2 separate regions of the Homo sapiens genome follow, and region 2 is linked to region 1. The links come from fine-mapping of genetic effects on gene expression. A gene starts in region 1. The other region holds a variant in brackets. All regions are shown on one strand. Distances are between the middles of the regions.

Region 1 (9,045 bases):
TCAGCAGGTGGGTAGAACCTGGACCTTGGATGGAAGAGGCCCGCGTGTGCTAGATGCCGGCTGTATGGACTCCGGCTGGTAGCTGAACCTCTGGGTCTACTTCTTCCTCCACAAAATTACAGCCAAGAACACCTGCCCTACCTGCTTTACGAGGCTTTTCTGGGATTAGTCAGGATAGTGGGTGTGAATGGGCTCTGAGCCTGGTAAAGCTCTAGGCAGGCATGAGAGATGACTGCTCTCATCTTCATTATTTCAGCCTGAGGACCACATCTGCTGACTGCTGAGCTGTATCCGGCCATTAGCTCGAAGTTATGACTAATTGTTTTTTAATGAAAAAAACAAGGTTTGCTTAATGTTTGATGAGTCACGCAAGTGAGCATCTCTGTATCAGGACTCTCCCACTTTCAAAGACTTGGCCTGTCCATCTACCTGTGGCTGAGGGGAGAGGCCAGGTGAGACCCTCTCTCCTGAGGGCCCACCATGTGCTATACAAATCCCCTAGCAGAGCAGTAGGGTCAACAGGGTGGTCTCTGCGCTCAAGAAGCCCACGATGGACAGGAAAGGAAGATGTGCACAGGCTCTCTCTTGACACTAGGCAGGGCAGGGCACCCTGTAACAGGCACAGGCCAGGGGCTCTGGGGCCAACAGACCATGCCAACAACAAATGTTGAGCCGGGTCTTGGCCTCCCCTGCAGTTGTAATCAGATGGCGTATGTGTCACCAGGGAGGCCCTTTGCAGAGGGCAGATGCCATTTGGGCTGGGCCTTGGACAAGGAGAAGGATTCTGCCCCACAAGGAGGACATTCCAAACATGGGCCTTGGCATGAGCTAAGGTGCAGGAGGACAGGGCTGAGGACACCTAGGCACCTGCTCTCAAAGAGCTTTCAGTCCACTTCAGAAGAAGAGAAAAATAGGCCAGGCGTGGTGGCTCATGCCTGTAATCCCAGCACTTTGGGAGGCTGAGGCGGGCGGATCACCTGAGGTCAGGAGTTTGAGACCAGCCTGGCCAACATGGTGAAACCCCGTCTCTATTAAAAATACAAAAATTAGCTGGGTGTGGTGGCAGGCACCTGTAATCCCAGCTACTCAGGAGGCTGAGGCAGGAGAACTGCTTAAACCCAGGAGGCGGAGGTTGCAGTGAGCCAAGATCGCACCACTGCACTCTAGCCTGGGCAACAGAGGAAGACTCTCAAAAAGTCTCAAAAAAAAAAAAAGAAAAAGAAAAAGAAAAAAAGAAGAAGAAGAGAAAAGTAGAGAACATGAAAGCCACATACACATGATGTGGACGGGGTCAAGGCCCAGAGGCAGGCAGTGTGTGGCGGGAGGAAAAGCAGCGGCTGGTGGGCTGGAGTCCCCTACCCTGCCCTGAACTGGGTCTGGCCCACCATCTCTCCAGGCTGTTTTACAGCCTCCTGTCTCCCAGAACACCCTTCCTCCAATCCAGCGTCCACACTGTCAGCTACACTCCCAAGGCCCCAGTCCTCCAAACCCCACTGTCTACAGGAGACAGTCCAATCCCCTCAGGCGGGCATGCAAGACCCTTCACAGTCTGCCCAACACGTCCAGCCACAACTCCTATAAACATCCTTCCATTCACACTATGACCAAGTTACACCAATTTGTCACACTCTGGACATGACGATCACTTTAATGTAAACACATTTACCTAGCCTGACCCCACTGCCTAGTTGCTAAAGAGAGTGGGTTCGCTCTGGGGTTTGAATCCTAGCACTGTGATCTCAGGTAAGTTACTTAACTTTTTTGTTTATCTATCTCTCCATGTGTGAAATGGGGATAACACTACCCACCTTCTAGATTAAATGAGGCCTGGCATGGTGCCTCATGCCTATAATCCCAGCACTTTCCGAGGCCGAGGTGGGTGGATCACTTGAGGCCAGAAGTTCAAGACCAGCCTAGGCAACATGGCAAAACCCCGTCTCTACTAAAAGTACAAAAAATTAGCCAGGTGAGGTGGTGTACACCTGTAATCCCAGCTACTCGCGAGGCTGAGGCATGAGAATTGCTGGAACCCGGGAGGCTGAGGTTGTAGTAAGCTGAGATCGCACCACTGCACTCCAGCCTGGGTAACAGAGTGAGACTCCATTTAAAAAAAAAAAAAGATTCAATGAATTCAAACAAGTAGAGTTTAGATCAGATCCCAGTACACAGCAGGTACTCAAAAAGAAATGTTAACTGTCGTTAGTAACCATGGATGGAAACCCTTGGAGGTTTAGCTCAATGTGACTTGTGTAAAGAATGAATTTCTCCTCCCTCTGGGCATAGAGGTGCTGTCATTGTCTGTGTCTTTTTCTTTTCCTAGGGTCTGTTTATGTAACCAACTGTTGGTATTTTTCCATTGCCTCGTGATGGAAATTCAACGGGGGGCAGTCTCTGAGAGAACACCCAGCTACTACTGGGCGCTCAGAAAATGTGGCTGCCTGGGTCTGTGCTGGGTGCATGGGAGACGTCCCAGGTGCAGGCTACTGAGGCTGCTCTGCTGTGGTGACAACCCCCAAATCTCAGTGGCTTCAAACATCAAAGGTTTATTATTTATTTATTTATTTATTTATTTTAAAGACAGAATCTCGCTCTGTCTCCCAGACTGGAGTACAGTGGCATGATCTCAGCTCACTGCAACCTCCGCCTTCCAGGCTCAAGCGATTCTCCTGCCTCAGCCTCCCAAGTAGCTGAGATTACAGGTGCCGACCACCATGCCCGGCTAATTTTTTTGTATTTTTAGTAGAGACGGGGTTTCACCATGTTGGCCAGGCCGGTCTCGGAACTCCTGACCTCAAGTGATCCGCCCTCCTCGGCCTCCCGAAGTGCTGGGTTTACAGGTGTGAGGCACTGCACCAAAGGGCGCTTACTTCTCTGTCCCACTGCACGTCCCTCGCTGGTTGGTGAGAACTCTACACCACACTGTCCTCACTCAGGGACCCAGGCTGACAGAGCTACCACTCTCTGGGGCACTGCCAGTCACTTGTGGCAAAGGGAAGGGTGTGTGGCAAGTAGCTCACTGGCTCCTAAAGACCTCTGCCCAGGAGTGACAGGCATTCCCTGTGCACGTCCCACTGGCCGAAGCGGATCGGGGGGAAGGTGCAGCCCTGCCGTGGGCTCATAGCATCGGGATACTGACGGCCAGCAAAGGAGCCCCGCTCACCACTTCTTCAGAAGCATGCCGGCCTCAAACCACTTACTGGCACCTCCTGGGAAGGAGGGTGGGTTGTGCACGTGGTTGTGACTTCAGGCAGCTGCACTCATCCCCCACCTAGACGGAGGCTCCAGGCCTCAGGCAACGGAAGCAGCAGGAGCAGCCCTGTTTATTGACAAACTGGGACCCTCCAAGGCTCAGTCCTCAGAGGCAGAGTGAATGCATAGTCTGGAAAGAGGACAGAGAGTTCCGGGGCCACACCAGGCACAAGGCTGGGCTGCCTGAGCTTGCTGGATGTCCATCCCGTTCCTAACCTTACATTTGCAGACCCCATCCACTGCATGCTGGGCAGGCGAGACAGGCTGCCACTCTGAGATTAGACGGCCTGGCTCCTCCCAAAAGACAAAGGACGCTGGTAAACTCAGCCTACTCTTCTCTCTCATGCAGCCTTCCTCAGGGCTGCAATGACAGCATCTTAAACTCATTTGGCTGAAAGAAAAATTACAGTAGCAGGCCAGGCATGGTGGCTAACGCCTGTAATCCCAGCACTTTGGGAGGCTGAGGCAGGTGGATCACCTGAGGTCAGGAGTTCAAGACCAGGCCAACATGGTGAAACCCCATCTCTACTAAAAATACAAAAATTAGCCAGGTGTGGTAGCACATGCCTGTAATCTCAGCTACTCGGGAGGCTGAGGTACAAGAATTGCTTGAACCCGGGAGGTGGAGGTTGCAGTGGGCTGAGATCGCACCACTGCACTCCAGCCTGGGCGACAGAGGGAGACTCTGCCTAAAAGAAAAAAAAAATACAGTAGCCCCCTGTCATCCACAGGAGATATGTCCCAAGACCCTGCATAGATGCCTGAAACCAAGGCTAGTATTGGATCCTGCATATGCCATGTTTTTTCTACACATACATATCTGTAATATAATTTAATTTACAAATTAGGCACAGTAAGAGATTAACAACAACAATAAAGTAGAACAATTTTTTTTTTTTTTTTGAGGCAGAGTCTCGCTCTGTCACCCAGGCTAGAGTGCAGTGGTGCGATCTCAGCTCACTGCAACCTCTGCTTCCAGAGCTCAAGCGATTCTCCTGCCTCAGCCTCCTAAGTAGCTGGGATTACAGGCGCGTGCCATCATGCCCAGCTAACTTTTGTATTTCTAGTAGAGACGAGTTTTCACCACGTTGGCCAGGTTGGTTTCAAACTCCTGATGTCAGGTGATCCACCCGCCTCGGCCTCCCAAAGTGCTGGGATTACAGGTGTGAGCCCCCACACCCAGCCAAAGTAGAACGGTTTTAACAATACACTCTAATAAAAGTTATCACACACTGTGACCATACTTTTGCAGTTTGAGGTGTGACAGCAAAACTGGCATGAGGCTGGGGTCAGTGGCTCCCGCCTGCAATCCTAGTACTTTGGGAGGCCAAGGTAAGTGGATCACCTGAGGTCAGGAGTTCGAGACCAGCCTGGCCAACATGATGAAACTCCATCTCTACTAAAACTAAATTAGCCAGGCGTGGTGGCAGGAGCCTGTAATCTCAGCTACTCAGAAGGGTGAGGCAAGAGAATCGCTTGAACCCGGGAGGCAGAGGTTGCAGTGAGCCAAGATTGCACCACTGTACTCCAGCCTGGGTGACACAGTGAGACTATGTCTCAAAAAAAAAAAAAAAAAGGCAAAAAAAACTAGCACGAATTTCTTTTTCTTTAGAATTTCACAGATAGAAGATTCAGCATATGACTGTTTTCTTCCCATCTTTTCACTTAAAGGAAGCACCTTACGGTTTCTCTTTGGCATATCCGAACAGCCAGCATCACTACCAGCATCACTACTCTGGTGCTTTGGGGCCCTAATGAAGTAAAAAAAGACTGACCTGAACAGAAGCACTGTGATACCAGGACGGGCGATCTGACGACTAAGTGACTGACCGGCGGGGAGCATCTACGGCCTGGACGTGGGGAACACAGGGACGGTTTGCATCCCAGATGGCACGGCAGAGACTCTCCATCACACTGCTCAGAACAATGCACAAGGGAAAACTTGGGAACTGTTTGAAGAATTTTCCATTTAATATTGTCAGACCGTGGTTGACCGCAGATAACTGAACCCATGGAAAGTGACACCGTGGATAAGGGGGGACTACTGTGGACAGCTTTCCTGGGTGATTGGGAGACGTTTTTCTGGTAGAACACCAGGGCAAGGCTTTTCTGAGGATGATCTACGAATTCTCCCCAGAGCACTTCAACCTCCCAAACCAAGCTCTGCGGCTGTGCCATTGCACAGTCTTCCCACAGCAGAGAGGTGTGTTTTATTTAAGGCACAAGACTCTGGAAGAATGGGCTTTGTATTTATTTATGAGACAGAGTCTTGCTCTGTCACCCAGGCTGGAGTGCAATGGCGCGATCTCAGCTCACTGCAACCTCTGCCTCCCGAGTTCAAGTGATTTTCCTGCCTCAGCCTCCTGAGTAGCTGGGATTACAGGCATGCGCCACCACGCCCGGCTTGTATTTTTAGTAGAGACGGGGTATCCCCATGTTGGTCAGGCTGGTCTTGAACTCCTGACCTCAGGTGATTCACCCACTTGGGCTTCCCAAAGTGCTGGGATTACAGGCGGGAGCCAACATGCCCGGCCAAGAATGGGCTTTAGTATCTGACATTTGGCCAGAGTGATCAGGCATTTGCTCTCATCTTAGAGCTTCCAGATAATCACATAATTTGTAAAATGACATTTATAAAGAGACAATATGTTTCATACCTGTCATGGATACTGAGAGAGAGAGAGAGAGAGAGAGAGAGAATACGACTGCTTCCCAAACTCGTGGTTGCCAGCGTGACTCTGGGCCAGGCCTGCCTGAGCCTGGGCTCCTTTGGGAGTCTAGAAGTAGATGCGGCAATGGTGGCCCCCTCCTGGAAGCCACCCCACAGCCATCCCTACCAATCACAAGAAGGCTTACAACGCTCTGGGATCCCTACAGGGATGCCAACTCAAATGGATGTTTCTGCTGAGCCAGGAGCACACACTGGGCCAGCAAAGCCCACGCCAAGCGAAAGGAGAGCCTGGGCCTATGGGATACAGAGTTCTCTTTGAATAAACTACCTGCCCCATCTGGCAGGAGTCTGCCTGGCTGCATCCCTTCCCATGAGGGCTTCTGGAATGTGCAGGGGCAAAAACACTGCTGCACAGACATGCTCCTGGCAAGGGGTCCTGCTGGTGCCTTGTCAGGTTCTGGAGTGGTGTGAGCTGCACAGCATCGGTCCCCCTTGCTGCTCATGCCATCCGCCTCTCCTTCTCGCAACCTGCCTTCCAGGCAGTTGTGCTGTGAAGACCTGGGCGGCCTGGGTGCAGCAAGCTCTCCTGAGGCTGAGTACATGCAGCAAGAAGGCCGGCACACAGCCCCGCATCGTCTTCTGAGCCTGCCTGCTGCATCGCGCTTGGGTCAATCCCTGGCCCAGCTAAGCATCTGCAGCCAGGGGAGGATGAGACTAGGAAAGGGGCCTCCGGTCACATGGTTCAGTCCAGGAGACAAGAACTTTTCCAGAAGTCCATACGACCCGAGTGTGGGCTTCAGGTCTCCAAAAACGATAATCACAAGCTGGGCATGGGGCAGTTCTCTTTTCCCACTTGGGACCAAAGCCACCAGACTTTCTGGTGTCTGAAGTACACATTGATCTGCTCTCTGTCTACAGGTGAACCACAGATGAGCCTGCTGACCAGCAGGCTGGGCTACTGTGCTCTCATGCTCTCTCTCTCCCACATGGACATTTGTAAATAGCTCCCAGGTGGGTCAATTTCGGAAGGCACTCATTTGGGATCTGGCTGACGGCTCCTGGCTGCATTATTAGAGTATGTTCTGAAGGTAAGTTCTTGGCCGAGATGGGACCTCACAACAAGCACTGCTTGAAAGCTGTCCACTGAACGGTCCAGGGAAAGGATGACCCACAGATGGTGTCAGGAATGTTAATCAGGTAAAATTCACAGCAGTCGTTTGGCGAAAGAGTTTGCTGTCTAAGATTCCTTCTGGTTGAGGTGTCTCCGGAGCATGACCAGAGCTGCCCCGACAGCTGCATCCACATCCTGCCCAAAGGACATGGGCAAAGGGAAAGCCCTCTGCACCTCCTGCTTCAGCACGTCATTCCTGGACAGCGCACTCCCACTGCCCATCACCCTCTCCACGCCCCACTCCTGGAGCTGCTGAATCGGAAGCATGGAGTGCAGGTTCTGAACAATGCCTCGGCACAGAGCCCGGGTCACGTGCCCCAGGGAGAGGTCGGAGGAGGAGATTCTGGTCACTGAGGCCAGCTGGTCCGGCAGGTGCCTCTCCCCCAGCACTGTCGGGGTGATGGTCAGGTGGGTATCTCTCTGCTGCACAGCTGCCTGAATCATGCGTGAATACACAGTGGATTCTTCAACCTCCAGGCCTGCCAGAGACAGAGAAGATCTGTGTAAGCTCATGCGTCCCCCTCAGTGCAGGCTGACATGGCAGAGAATTCCCACAGGGTGGGAACAGCGCTACTTGCTGCTTCTCCTCCCGCTGCAGCTGGTGGTTCTGGGCTCAGGGACTGCTATAGCCAGGCTAGCTACACTCTGCCCTGGATCCCCGCCCGCTGTCTCAGTGCAGACCCCAGCCAGACATCAGGGTGAGGTCTCATTAAGTGCTGCCATGAGCCCTACCCCTAACACAGGCTTCTTAACCAAGGGGACCAAATGCATATACAGACTAATAACTATCATTGGCTGGGCGTGGTGGCTCACGCCTGTAATCCCAGCACTTTGGGAGGCCAAGGCGGGCAGATCACCTGAGGTCAGGAGTTCAAGACCAGCCTGGCCAACGTGGTGAAACCCTGTCTCTACTAAAAGTACAAAAATTAACCGGGCGTGGTGGCAGGCACCTGTAATCCCAGCTACTCAGGAGGCTGAGGCAGGAGAATCACTTGAACCTGGGAGGCAGAGGTTGCAGTGAGCGGAGCTTGCACCACTGCACTCCAGCCTGGGCAACAAGAGCAAGACTCCATCTAAAACAAACAAACAAACAAAACTATCATCATGGATGTCATTGGGGTCGTTAGCAGCATCAGAAATCCCAGGATCCAGGACCAATCACTGAATGGGCCACCCTCGTTATGTGCACAGGGCACCTGAAATCCAAGGAAGAAGGATGAGTTGACCATCCTACAACTTGCTTTTCAGTGTCAAGCCAGAATCCCGATCGGACTTTTCTCCCTGACACCACGTTAGCTCTGCGGGTTTTTTTTTTTTTTTTTTTTTTTCTGAGGCTCGCTGTGTCACCCAGGCTGGAGTGCAGTGGCACATATCCTATCGGCTCACTATAACCTCTGCCTCCCGGGTTCCAGCGATTCTCCTGCCTCAGCCTCCCAGGTAGCTGGGATTACAGGCCCACACCACCACACCTGGCTAATTGTGGTATTTTTAGTAGAGACAAGGTTTTACTACATTGGACAGGCTGGTCTCAAGCTCTCGACCTCAAGTGATCTACCTGCCTCAGCCTTCCAAAGTACTGGGGTTACAGGCATGAGCCACCATGCCCCGCCAGCTCTGCATTCTTAAAACAAACAAACGAAAAAAAAAAAAAGGCCAAGCGCGGTGGCTTACGCTGTAATCCCAGCACTTTGGGAGGTCAAGACAGGCGGATCACTTGAAGTCAGGAGTTCCAGACCAGCCTGGACAACATGGTAAAACCCTGTCTCTACTAAAAATACAAAAATTAGCCAGGTATGGCAGTGTGTGCCTGTAGTCCCAGCTACTTGGGATGCTGAGGCATGAGAAACGCTTGAACCCAGAAGGCAGAGCTTGCAGTGAGCTGAGATGGTGCCACTGCACTCCAGTCTGGGTGACAGTGCGAGACTCAGTCTTAAAAAAAAAAAAAAAAAGCCTT
Region 2 (12,069 bases), 980 kb after region 1:
GATTGAGAACTCAGGCCCCTGGATGGGTGGGGAGGGGGGTCGAGGGGGACGCGATCAGCAGCGGCTTTTGGGAACTCTCCATCGCAGGGGGTAAATCCCTTACCGTGAAGGGAGAGAGGTGGAAACCCGCCTTGAGCCGTGTCTAGATTCCTCGGGTCAGTGACTAGCCAGAGGCCCACACCACGTGGGGATAGGGCGGAGGCCGACGTGGACCAGTCACTACCTTGCGCATGGGCCACCCAGAGCAGTTAGAATGTGTCCATGGTGTGTGCAGTGGCCCTTGGGTGGGATTTTCCATCCTGATCAGGCATGTGCTCTCGGGTTGGGTTCCCAGGATCTGGGGCTGTGTAGCCTGCACCTGCTCCCTCCTTGGTGCAATCCCTGGGGCTCTCAGATTTCCCGCTGTGGGCTGGGCTGGACCCTAGGGGGCCTGGAGGAGGGTATCAGATTGGGCCTTCCCCCTGGAGGTCCCATCCAGGGTGGGAGATGGCCCCAGACCAAGTTTGGGCAGCCAGAGATGTTTTGCTCCAAACACAGTAGTTAGCCCCTTCTCAGTGGGTATCTCAGCAAGGCTTTGTGCTGGGGGCCTGGGGCTTGCTGCTACTGGTGCAGATGAGGGTGGGGTGGGGGCTGTGCAGGAAGCCTCAGAAAGGCTGAAAGTACTCACTGGTGAGTGCAGCCTCGAGGTATGCGAGTGGAGTGGGCAGTGGCGAATGCCCCTAGTGTGCTGGGCAGAGGAGTTGGGCTTTGCCCGGCCTGTAAGAAGTTCTTAAACATGTCATGGTAGCAGAACCCGGGAGTGTCCCAGTGCTCCGTGTGAAATGTCTGGAAATGTGGATACACTTAAGTCTGTCTTATGAACATGACACTCTACGTGACCATGGTCTAAAATCACCACTGTGAGCTCACACGTGCCTCATCAACTGTGTCATCGGTTGTTTCTGAGGTTTTATTTGAACATGCATTTGCTATTTGTCTGCTCATAGCAGCAGCTGTCCAAATTAAAAAAAAAAATGTCAGGTTCACATATACATGTAGATGTGTGTGTACACACAAAGAGAGAGAGAGAGAGAGAGAGAGAGAGGGAATTCTCTCCAGTCGTGATTTTTGTCAATGGAGATTAGCCATTGTTCACTGGCACCAAGCTAGTCCACTAGGTTAGGAGTTGGTGGATGAAGCTCAGGATGAGGGTCTTCTTTGTGTCTGGCAAGCCCTCTTCGGGGTGGATGGAAGGTGGAGGGTGGCTGGAGGTGGGTAACTTGATTGTGATGGTCCAAGGAGAAAGGAAAGGTCTGAGCTGGGCCGTGGGCCTTGGTGTGTAGAGGGGCTGCCTTGGACAGGGTTTCAGAGGGGGAATGAGCAGATGGGGTAGTCTCAGAGGGGAGCTCTGACTTGGGGGACTGCTGGGTCACAGATCTGGGGTGAGATGCTGGGTTCCACCCGGGTCGTGCTGAACATGAGGGGACTATGGGAACTCCAGGTGAAGCTGTCCCAGAGCAGGTGGATTCATGGATCTGGTGCTCCACACAGTGAGCAAGCCTGGAGATTAGGGAGCTCTCTGGGCAGAAGCAAAGAGTCTGAAGGAATTAAAAACCAGACCGGGGAACTGCCAGGGAGTGAGGAGGACCTGAGTGCACTCTCAGCAAACCAGAGAAGGAGCCCTCCTGGAAGAAGAGGCTGGGGTCAGTGAAGATGCGTCGGCCTGTTGGGGAGTGAAGATGGAGACCCAGGCACCCAGGGGCATGAGCAGCAAGGGTAGCTGAGCACTGTGGGTGGAACATGGCTATGGTCCCCAGTTGGGTTAGAGGCTCTGCACCCCTTGAGCCCTGGCTCCCGGGGCCTGAGGCAGCTGCCGCTGGGCTGACCCCCGAAGCACCAATCCCCATCTCTCTTGCTGTCCTCCGTCTCAGGAGCATTGTCACAGCCTCCAGACCAGTGTCCAGCATTGAGAGGAGGGACTGTGTGGAGCCATCCCCATGTGCTGGCTCGTGTCCTGTGACCAGCACGATGTGATCAAGAGCTTGGTCACACTCAAGGAGCCGGGGCTCAGGGTGAGACTGGAGTGTGGACCATGGACATAGAGTCACAGCCCCACACCAGGCTGCTGGGTGTCTGACCTCTCAGACTTTGTGTCTGTGTAGTGGGGGTCTGGGTGGGACAATCTCATCCCATCCACATGAGCCAGGGATGGCTGTACTACCTGGCATTGTAGAGGTTGGTGTCACACTACCCCTCTGTAACAAGCAATGACATTTAGAGACCCAGTTCCTTTCAAACTGGGGACTGAAGGATTGGAGGTAGATTGTCTCCAATATATAAATGTCCCCTGAACTCAATACAGGAAGGGTTGATCAAGTAATCCTGTCTGGCTGGGAGCAGGGAGCTGAGAGCCAGCTTGGGGCCGGGGGTGGATGGTGGCAGCTTGAGGCCAGGCCCAGGCCCCAGCAGGTTGGGCCAGAGCTGTGGCCTGGAAATGTCATCCTCAGCTGAGCTGGAGCCACTGGGTCCCTATGCCCGAGGCAGCGGAGGCCCCAGGAACAGCTGCCAGGAGCCCCATGTCAGAGGCCCGACCATGAAAGAAGCCAGACTCGCCTTATCTGCCTTCCTTTCCCAGACACACTGTGCGATAAGAGAGTTAAATGCTTTAGGGAGAAGTTTGAATTAAGTCCTTTCAAACGGTGTTGTGAGTGGAGGAGGGCCGGGTCAGCAGTGTGAACTGTCTTAGGATGGGGCTCTGGCCCTGCGTGGGTCTCGTCCCCATGGATGGGCCCGTGCAGATCAGGCAGCACCCAGAAGGCCTGAAATATTCTTCCTTCCCCTACAAAAATGTCTAAAAGCTTTTCCAATAAGAAGGTCCCTGAAATCAGACTTACCTCATCACCCTTCCGCCTTTCCCGTGAGTGCCTCAGGCCTGGGCTCCCTCATGGGGCACCTCCCCTTTCTCAAAACAAAGCCGAGCTGGGGAATCTTGGGGGGTACCAGGCCAGCTCAACAGGACCTGTCCCCAGCCCCAGGGCTCTCCAGCGATTTCTGCCCCGGTCCCAGCATACCGAGGCCCCTCCCTGGTTTCCTTCCGCATGACGGCGACAGGCTGCCCCCATCAAAGGAGAGCAGTAACCCACTGGGGACTCTGCGGGGACAGCTCGTTCCAGCCCAGCCCTTTGGTTGAAGACCTCTGAGTTCTGTGAAGGTCCCACTGGGTGGTGACCCCAGTCCCCCGCCTTTTCCTCACACTCATTGGCTAAGACAGATCCCATGGGGCCGGGGCTCATACTGACCCAGGTCCTGGAAGACAACTTTGCCTTGAGTTGTCCTCTCTGCCCCCTAGAAGGCCAGAGCACTTTGTGGACAGAGCCCTGGTTTGGGGTGGGAGACCCGAGTCCCGTACTTTGGCTCTGCCACTACCTTTAGTCATGGTGTGGGGTTTAGGGGTTCCCCCTGCCCCACCCCACGTCTTGCTTTCCCCATCTGTGTGATGATGGGTTGGAGGATGGTCTCAGAATAGCCCCTTGCGCCTTGACCTAAGGCACGGGCAGACCCCTTTCCCCAGGTGACGAATGCTTCTAGTCGTGGGGCAGGGGAGCTTGGGAGTCTGGGCTCAGCCCTACACCCCAGCCTGCATTAGCCCAGCCCCTTCCCCTCCTCCCTTTGCCGGAGAACCCTTAGCAGTGATCTAACCAGGATAGAACTTACTCCCAGTCTGGTGTAGCGCCTGGTCCCCTGGGGCATCATGGGGGTTGTTGAGGGGCTGCAACGTGCAGGGACAGGCATCTGCGGAGGGCCTCCCACCCACCTATAGAGAAACATATTTCCTGGGAAAATGGTTTCACCCTCAGCCTTTCCCCCCAGAGCCCCGCCTGGACCTGTGGAACCTGTCAGACGAGAGCAGGGTGGGTGAGGGGGCACGGAGACCCCAGAGCCTGGTGACTGTGGGGGCCGGGGTTCCAGCTGGACTGGCTGGTTCTCCTCCCCCTGCCGACATGGTCTACACGGCCGCAGCGTGGCTCTAGGGGCACCCGTTCTGCTCTGCGTGCTGGGAGACGCCCTGTGCTTTTCTTGCGTTTCTGAGAGTGGGCCTGGCCTCTCCTCCTCCCACTCTTGAATCAAGAGCTCAGGGGTCGCCTCCTCTCCAAGGCTGGCTCTTCCCAGGCTCTGGGTCCTGTCTGCTGTGAGCTCCCCAGTGGTCCCGCTCTGCAGATGCTCCCCTCACCTTTCTCACCCTATGAATGTGGTCTTGCCTCTTCCTTCTGGAAAAACCCCTCAGACCCTTTCCCCTGGCTTCGCTCAGGGCTAAAGTTACTGCGCTGTCTTCATTTCTCTGGGACCCCTCTGCTAGGCCATCTCCTGTCCCCCAACCCCCTGTCCCCCGCCCCACGCTTCTGATCACCCATGACCTCTTCTTTTGCTGAACCCAATGGATGCCTGGTTGGATTTCCTCTTCACCTTTTCCTCAACCCCAGGCTGCCTTTGGACGCACCTGGCTTTTTTTTTTTTTTTTTTTTTTTTTTTTTTTTTTTTTTTTTTTTTTGAGACAGAGTCTCGCTCTGTTGCTCAGGCTGGAGTGCAGTGGTGCAATCTTGGCTCACTGCAACCTCCATCTCCTGGGTTTAAGC[G/A]ATTCTCATGCCTCAGCCTCCTGAGTAGCTGGGATTACAGGCACCCACCACCATGCCTGGCTAATTGTTGTATTTTTAGTAGAGATGGGGTTTCACCACGTTGGCCAGGCTGGTCTTGAACTCGTGACCTCAAGTGATCCACCCGCCTCGGCCTCCCAAAGTGCTAGGATGACAGGCGTGAGCCACCGCGCCTGGCCCCGTGCCTGGCTTCTTGACTCCCTTCCTTCCTGGCCTTGGCTTTCTCACCATTCTTCAGGGGCTCCTCCTACGTCTCTGGCTGCTCCTCATTCTCCGCAGACTGCTCTGTTGCTTCCTGAAATGTGGGGGCCTCATCCCAGGGCCCCTAAGCTGCTCTTCCTCTGCTGGGCTTCCAGGAGCCCAGTGCATGCCCCTGACTCCTGTTTTTCCATGTTCGTCCTTCTTTTCTCTTAAACTCCAGACTCAAAAATCCAGCTACCTCCTCAGCTCCCTGATGCTCCAGGTGCCCCAGGCCCTCAACATGTCCCAACTGAAACCCTCATTTAGCCCCTAAACCTGCCCTGACCCACCAAGTCTGGGCTTGGGAGAGGCTTGGCACCCTTCCTCTTCCATGTCCACCCAGTCTCCCAGCCAGATCCCTTTTCCCCAAAGCTCCGAGTCCTTCTTGCCCGTGGCCCTCCCAGTGCCCCATCTCCCCTCCCCAGGTTCCTGCCCAGGACTAGTGAAGTGTCTTGCCATCTGGTCTCCACTCTCTGGCATCTTCTGAAGGGTGTGCCTGAAACACAGAGCCGAGGACCTTGGGCTCCTTCTTGTCTAAGGCGTCAAGTACCCAGGGCCAGCAGCTTGGGCGGCAGGGCAGGCAGCTTGGGCGGCAGGGCACTTCTCCATCTGCCTGCGTCCTGGACGGGCATGATCAGGATACCTGTGCCTTGATGTCTCTCTGCAAAAGCAGACACTAATCACTCTGCTGGGAGTGCCCTCCCTTGCTCCTCCACCGGGCTCACTCTGGATGTGGCTCAGGCACCCCTGCCTCTGAGAAGCCCTCCTTGCCCCACTGGGTCAGATGAAGCCTGTGTGAGGCATCCTTATCCTGACACGGCCCCCTCTGTTCACCAGCCTGGCTCCCCTCCCAGACTGATTCCCCAATGGCAGGGTGGCACCTCCCGCACTGGTTGCAAGAGGAGCTGAGCCATCTGGGGCCAGGGATGCAACATCATTTGCCTGGGAACCTTGTAGACCAGGGGGCATCTGGGAGAGGCACAGCCGACCTCTCAAGCCGCTCGTCCTGGGCTCGTGGTGGAGCCCCCACCAGCCCCACAGACACTCTCAGCCGTTCACACGCCCTGGCTGTGAGGAGGGCAGGACCAAGGTTGAGGACTTCTCCCCTGGCCACACGTGCCAGCTGTTTTTTGCTGTATAACTTTGGGCAGGGCACATGCCCTCTGGGAGTCCTCGGGCCCCATCTCTGAAATGGCTCTGGCAGCACCTACCGGGGAGGACAGTTGCTATAAGTGGTGTTTAGAAGGTGTTGCTATAAGGATAGCACCGGAAAAAGGGCTGGATGTTTGGTAGATGCCGAGTGGCACTTGCCTAGCCTGCTCCCGTTTCTCAAACAGGGAAACAGACCCAGAGGGGAACTGATGTGGCCCAGGTCACATGGGTGGGTGGCAGCACAGCCTGGATCCCAGGCTCCCCACTGGCTCTTGGCCTTGGCTGTCTTGTCTGCCCCCACCTGCCCCACCCACTACTACTGCCCAGCTGGGATGGATGAGTCGCACGGAGCTGATCAGGCGCTTGCACTCTGCATAGCCGGGTAAATCTTGTGTCCCCGCCTCCCATGCAAAGATCTCATCGTGATCAGGGCTCCGTAGCTCATCGTTGGCCCAGAAGGACCTGGTGCCACTGGTTCCTGCTGCCCCTGCACGGGTAGCCATGCCGACCTGGCCCAGCTGAGAGGGGCAGGGGGCGAGGCACTCCTGACCCCATCATCTGGTCCAGCCTGGGGGAAAAGGTGAGGGGGCCTAATGTCATTGGAACCCTCCATCTTGACTTCTGTCCTCAGCTTTTTGGGACTCTGGGAGGAGCCCAGTGGAGGTGTTTGCCTCCCAGGATCGCAGGGGCTCAGCAGTTGGAGTGGGGCCATCCCAGCTTTTGCTGTGTGACTTGGCCCGTCACTTTCTTCCTGGGGGCTGTTTTCTCTCAACATGATTGGTGTTTTGCCAGAACGGGAGGGGATTTGGGGGTGGGCAGCTTTTGGGGGTGGGCAGCTGGCCCTAGCTGATGGGGTCTCGGTGACATTTGTGTCTCTGTAGAGTTTGGATCACGATGAGGCCAGTGAGTCGGAGATGAGAAAGACCTCAAACTCCTGCATCATGGAAAATGGGCACCAGCCGGGGGCAGGTAGGGCTGACGGCAGAGGAGGGGTGGCTGGGTAGGTTTGGGGGTTAAGTAAGGCCTTGGTCAGGTATCTGTGCCAGGCTGGCCCTTGGCCTGGCATCGGGGGGACTCTATCCTGAACCCCAGCAGGGAGAGAGGCTGCCAGGAGAGCAGCGTCATTCAGTAGAACTTGTGAAACACAGAGGGAAGTTGGGAGATCTCAGGAGGTAGTGAGCTCTCCTGTTTCTAGAGGAAAGCAAATAGAGGCTGAGGAGCCGACTAGTATTTATTAAGCTGGCCATGAGGGGAAGTTGGGAAAAATCAATTCTGGTTGGAGCAGTAAGATATCCCTGGTAGGGGAGGTCAGAGAGGCTGGAGCAGTCAGGGAGGCCTTCCTAGAGGAGGTGGGAGGAGGGCCCAGGGAGGCTAGAGCCCTCCTGGGAGGTCCCAGGCCCCTGTGGCTGCCACAGCTGACCACCCACCCATGCTGGTCACATGTTCCAGGTCCAGGCGATGGACCCCCTGAGATTGCCCAAAACTTCTCAGCACCAGATCCCCCCAGGCCTCGTCCTGTGAGCCTCTCCTTGCGGCTGCCCCACCAGCCAGTCACGGCCATCACCCGAGTCTCTGACAGGTTCTCTGGGGAGACCTCAGCTGCGGCTCTATCACCCATGTCTGCTGCCACCCTGGGGGGCCTCAACCCAAGCCCCAGCGAGGTCATCACGCCCTGGACTCCCAGTCCTAGCGGTATGAGCTGGAGAGCGTGGCCTTGGGGCAGACCTCCCCTTGGGATGGGAGAGGGAAGGCCGGGGCTGGGGAGAGGGAGTCGGTGGGTGACATGGAAAACGAGGGGCTAAGCCCAGCCCTGCCTCTGCCTGCCATGTCAGCCCCTTCCCTTAGCCCATCCTCCCGGGCTACTGCCCAGAGATGCTGTGAAATAGCGTCATCCCCTGGTGGGGGCGACCGTGGCTTTTATTACAGTTGGAAGGTGGCCTCTTGCCCTGCACGTTGGGCACTGTCCCCTCCCTCAAGGCCCCAGGCCTGACTTGGGCCTGTGGCCAGTCCTCCGTGGTATGTCCTGGGGGAAGCCGTGTGGGCCTCTATAGGGAGGGTTTGGGAGCAGTGTTCACTGGATACATGGCACGGGCCCTGGGCTCTGTGCTCTCAAGAGCAGGGCGGGGACAGTTGAAAAGACCTCTTTGATGTTGTTGCTGTGTGTGCCCATCCTCCTTTCTCCTCCACTGTCTGCTGAGGCAGGGCCAGCTTAGCCCAGAAGGTTAGCTCATCCATGCAGCGATGCCGGGTAAATGAGGCAGGGCTGGGTCAGAGGAAGGGAGGCTATGGCGGGCCCTCCCTGGGGCCAGGGTTTGTTACTTCTCTCCCTCTCTCTTCCACAGAGAAGAATTCCTCTTTCACGTGGTCTGTGCCAAGCTCTGGCTATGGGGCAGTGACAGCAAGCAAACACAGCAATAGGTGAGTCAGGGCCTGTGTTCCTGTGGGGTCGCTGCGCCCCAGGTGTCTTCTCTGCTTTGGACGCAGGCCGCCCAGGGTTGGCCCTGGGGTTGGTGCCTCCTGGTAAGGCTCGGGGCTGGATCTCGGGAGCACTGGGCGGCAGGATGGGGGGAAGGTCTGAGCAGGGGGAGTGAGGCAGTGGGCCTCGGTGGAGAGTTTCATTTGGAGAAATATGGTCACAGCCTGGTTTCTTTGTGGGACCTTCAAGTCAGTCAAAAGATTGGAGGAGTGGCCGGGCGCGGTGGCTCACACCTGTAATCCCAGCACTTTGGGAGGTTGAGGTGGGTGGATCACCTGAGGTCAAGAGTTCGAGACCAGACTGGCCAACATGGCAAAACGCTGTCTCCACTAAAAATACAAAAATTAGCTGGGCATGGTGGTGGGTGCCTGTAATCCCAGCTACTTGGGACGCTGAGGCAGGAGAATCGCTTGAACTCGGGAAGCGGAGTTTGCAGTGAGCCAAGATGGTGCCACTGCTCTCCAGCCTAGGTAACAGAGTGAGACTCTATCTACAAAAAATAAATAAATAAATAAATAAATAAATGAATAAAAAACAAAAAAATATTGGAGGAGGCCTCTCAGCCGGCAGGAGGGAGAGGACAGGAGCTTTGTCTTCTTCCATCCCAGCCAGCTGGGGTCCCTCAGAGCCCGGAACTTCCTGCCCACGGGCTGCGAGCAGGGGCAGGTGAGCAGGTCCTTCCCTGTGGCACAGGCCTCCCCCCAGCCAGCCAGCGGGACTGTGATTGGGGATGGGGGTAGGGTAGCAGGCTTGGCTTTTTTTTTTTTCTTTAATAATAAAAGGAGAATTGTGACTTTCTGGCAAACCGTTCTGGGGAAAACAAAGGGGGTCTTATCGCATGGTGGTGGAGGCAGGAGGCCTGGTCCCTCCGGGGCTGGTTCTGAGCACACCTCCTGCCTGAGGAGGGGGTCCCTCTGTCCTCCCCAGGCATTGACACCTGCAAAGGGGTGGTTATGTCCAGATCGGGCCCAGCGTCTCCTGAGTTGAGCCTATTGGCCAGTCCCTCCAGCCAGCACAATTCAGAAAACCTGTCAAACCAGCTAGGGACCGGAGCAAGGGGGCCTCTTCTCTGAGCGCCCATCACGGTGCAGGCTGCCTTGTCCACACTCAGTGCAATGGAGACCTTGGGGCCTGGTGAGCTAGTGATGGCTGCTGGGCCCAGGTCCCAACTCGGCGATTCTTTCCTCAGCCCACCGCTGGTGACACCACCCCAGTCGCCCGTGTCCCCGCAGCCGCCAGCCATAACTCAGGTCCATCGGCAGGGGGAGCGTCGCAGGGAGCTGGTGAGGTCGCAGACGCTGCCCCGCACCTCGGAGGCGCAGGCCCGGAAAGCATTGTTTGAGAAGTGGGAGCAGGAAACGGCGGCCGGCAAGTACGGATGCCCACTCACAGACAGGCCCGGCCCCACGGTGTGCCCAGACCCAGACGGGGCTTGGGTGGGTGCAGCAGGGCAAGGTTCAGCCCTGTCCTGTTCCCCAGGGCGCTGTTGCCCAGGACAAGATCTCTTGGGCAAGGCACAAAGTTAGGGCTGGGCCACAGGGCAGCTTGGGGGGACAGAGGACCCCAGTTGTTGGGGGAGATGGCTGTGAGGCAGGGAGCCAGGAAGGCTTGGTGAGAGCCCCTCTCTCCTCCTCCATTCCCGAGGCCCCCTGTCCTGTCTCTGGTGCCGCCAGGCTGCCCTCACACCCACATTCCCCAGGGGTTGTGGCTCCTCTGGTTTCTGGGCATGACCGGGGACTGGATGGGGACTGGGATTCCTGGCCAGAGCTGGGAGCCCCAGCATGGGGTTGGTCTTGCCCAAGGACCGAAGGTGATGCCACGGGGCCGAGTGGCCTCCAGCCTGCTACTAGGTCTCGAGCGACGGCTCCTCAGGCTCCAGCCCACCTTTGCATATTCAGCCAGTCCTCGTGTCAGTGCATGGTATTGATGCCTGCTGTGTGCAGAGTGTGGCCCAAGCGTGGTATTGATGTCTGCTGTGTGCAGGGTGTGGCCCAAGCGTGGTATTGATGTCTGCTGTGTGCAGGGTGTGGCCCACGCGTGGTATTGATGCCTGCTGTGTGCAGGGTGTGGCCCAAGCGTGGTATTGATGTCTGCTGTGTGCAGGGTGTGGCCCACGCGTGGTATTGATGCCTGCTGTGTGCAGGGTGTGGCCCAAGCGTGGTATTGATGTCTGCTGTGTGCAGGGTGTGGCCCAAGCGTGGTATTGATGCCTGCTGTGTGCAGGGTGTGGCCCAAGCGTGGTATTGATGCCTGCTGTGTGCAGAGTGTGGCCCAAGCGTGGTATTGATGCCTGCTGTGTGCAGGGTGTGGCCCAGGCCTTGTGGGATAATGAAGACGACAGCCAGTCCCTGCTCGACTCTAGTGAGGGGGACCGACCCCGGACATCTCCCCACTGGCCCCAAACAACCTGGCCTAGGCCATTAGGGACTGTCCTTGGGGCCCAGAAGAGGAACTCATCCCTCCTGGCTAGGAAAGAGCCATCAGGGAAGGAGGCACCCCATTAAGAGGGGAGCTCAGAAGGAGGAGTGGGAGGAAGGAGCTGGGAAAGGTGTTCCAAAGCAGAAGGCAGGGGCCCAGGGCCATGTGAGCCAAGGTCTTCTGTCTCAGGATTCCCAGGTGACCCCTGCTTCCTGGATGGGGAATAAACAGGGGACCTGGAGGGCTGTAGGGGTGTGGACGGTCCTGCCACATACCATCAAAGGAGGCTGTGTCGCTGGTACATGGGCTGTGCCGTGGACGTGGGCACAGCTGAGCCCACGTGTGCCACCAGCATCTCCCCTGGGTGAGCAGAGCAGGTGGGAGCACCCTCCTTGGTGGTGCCAGGACAGCCTCCCCTGCCCCAGACCCGCACTGGGAGATGGCAGCTGGAGGGGCCCCCGCAGCAGGCCTGCCGTCTCTCCGCAGGGGGAAAGGCGAGGCCCGGGCCAGGCTGAAGCGGTCGCAGAGCTTCGGCGTGGCCAGCGCCAGCAGCATCAAGCAGATCCTGCTCGAGTGGTGCCGCAGCAAGACGCTGGGCTACCAGGTGAGCCCCGGCTCCCCTCCGGCTGCTGGGACGCCCCAGCTAAAAGCTTGACCAAGCGTCGCCCCTGTCCTTGTTCTCCCGCCTGGGCAGGAGCCCGCTGAGGCTGGGGTTAAGGGGTAGGAACCACGGTAATTATGCCTTCCGAGTGGGTGCCCAGCTGCCCTCCCGCACTGACCCCACTCACCCTGTTGCAGCACGTGGACCTGCAGAACTTCTCCTCCAGCTGGAGCGACGGCATGGCCTTCTGCGCCCTGGTACACTCCTTCTTCCCCGATGCCTTTGACTACAACTCCCTGAGCCCCACGCAGAGGCAGAAGAACTTCGAGCTGGCTTTCACCATGGCCGAGTGAGTATGGTGGCTCCTGCTGGCTACCAGCCCCAGCCCAGTCCCTGAGCCCAACTTCTTCCCCAGGTGGGGCATGGGGGCGAGTGGGATGTCGGGCCGCTGTCTGCAAAGCTGAAGGACCCTGGGGCCATGTGGTCTGTGTACCTCTTGTGCAGATGGGAAGACTGAGGCCTGGAGAGGGATTTTCCCAGAGTCACACAGC

Which allele goes with the higher level. Positions count from the first base shown, and alleles are read on the strand shown. Sizes are in standard deviations (SD) of each study's normalised expression.
In carriers of allele A in region 2, the expression in fibroblasts of the gene that starts at base 6,009 in region 1 tends to be higher than with G alone (small effect, 0.39 SD a copy in GTEx).

Evidence for each region. PIP is the estimated chance that this variant, and not a neighbour inherited with it, causes the effect.
Region 2: its variant is fine-mapped to the expression of TRPV1 in fibroblasts (GTEx, PIP above 0.99).

Annotation. Positions count from the first base shown.
Region 1 is chr17:3,603,403-3,612,447 of GRCh38, forward strand. TRPV1 (transient receptor potential cation channel subfamily V member 1) reads right to left here and starts at 6,009. Exons shown (of 17, transcript NM_080704.4): 1 at 5,907-6,009; 2 at 5,025-5,163. It overlaps SHPK (sedoheptulokinase), which reads right to left. Exons shown (of 7, transcript NM_013276.4): 7 at 4,838-7,570. The coding sequence ends at 7,158. RefSeq lists an enhancer at 5,899-6,400.
Region 2 is chr17:4,585,457-4,597,525 of GRCh38, forward strand. It overlaps SMTNL2 (smoothelin like 2), which reads left to right. Exons shown (of 8, transcript NM_001114974.2): 2 at 6,905-6,992; 3 at 7,473-7,715; 4 at 8,366-8,441; 5 at 9,689-9,871; 6 at 11,404-11,521; 7 at 11,716-11,867. Among named protein-coding and RNA genes, the nearest start is that of SMTNL2, 7.0 kb to the left of the region's middle. RefSeq lists enhancers at 52-669, 7,420-7,991. The variant G/A (reference allele first, on the strand shown) is at 4,614.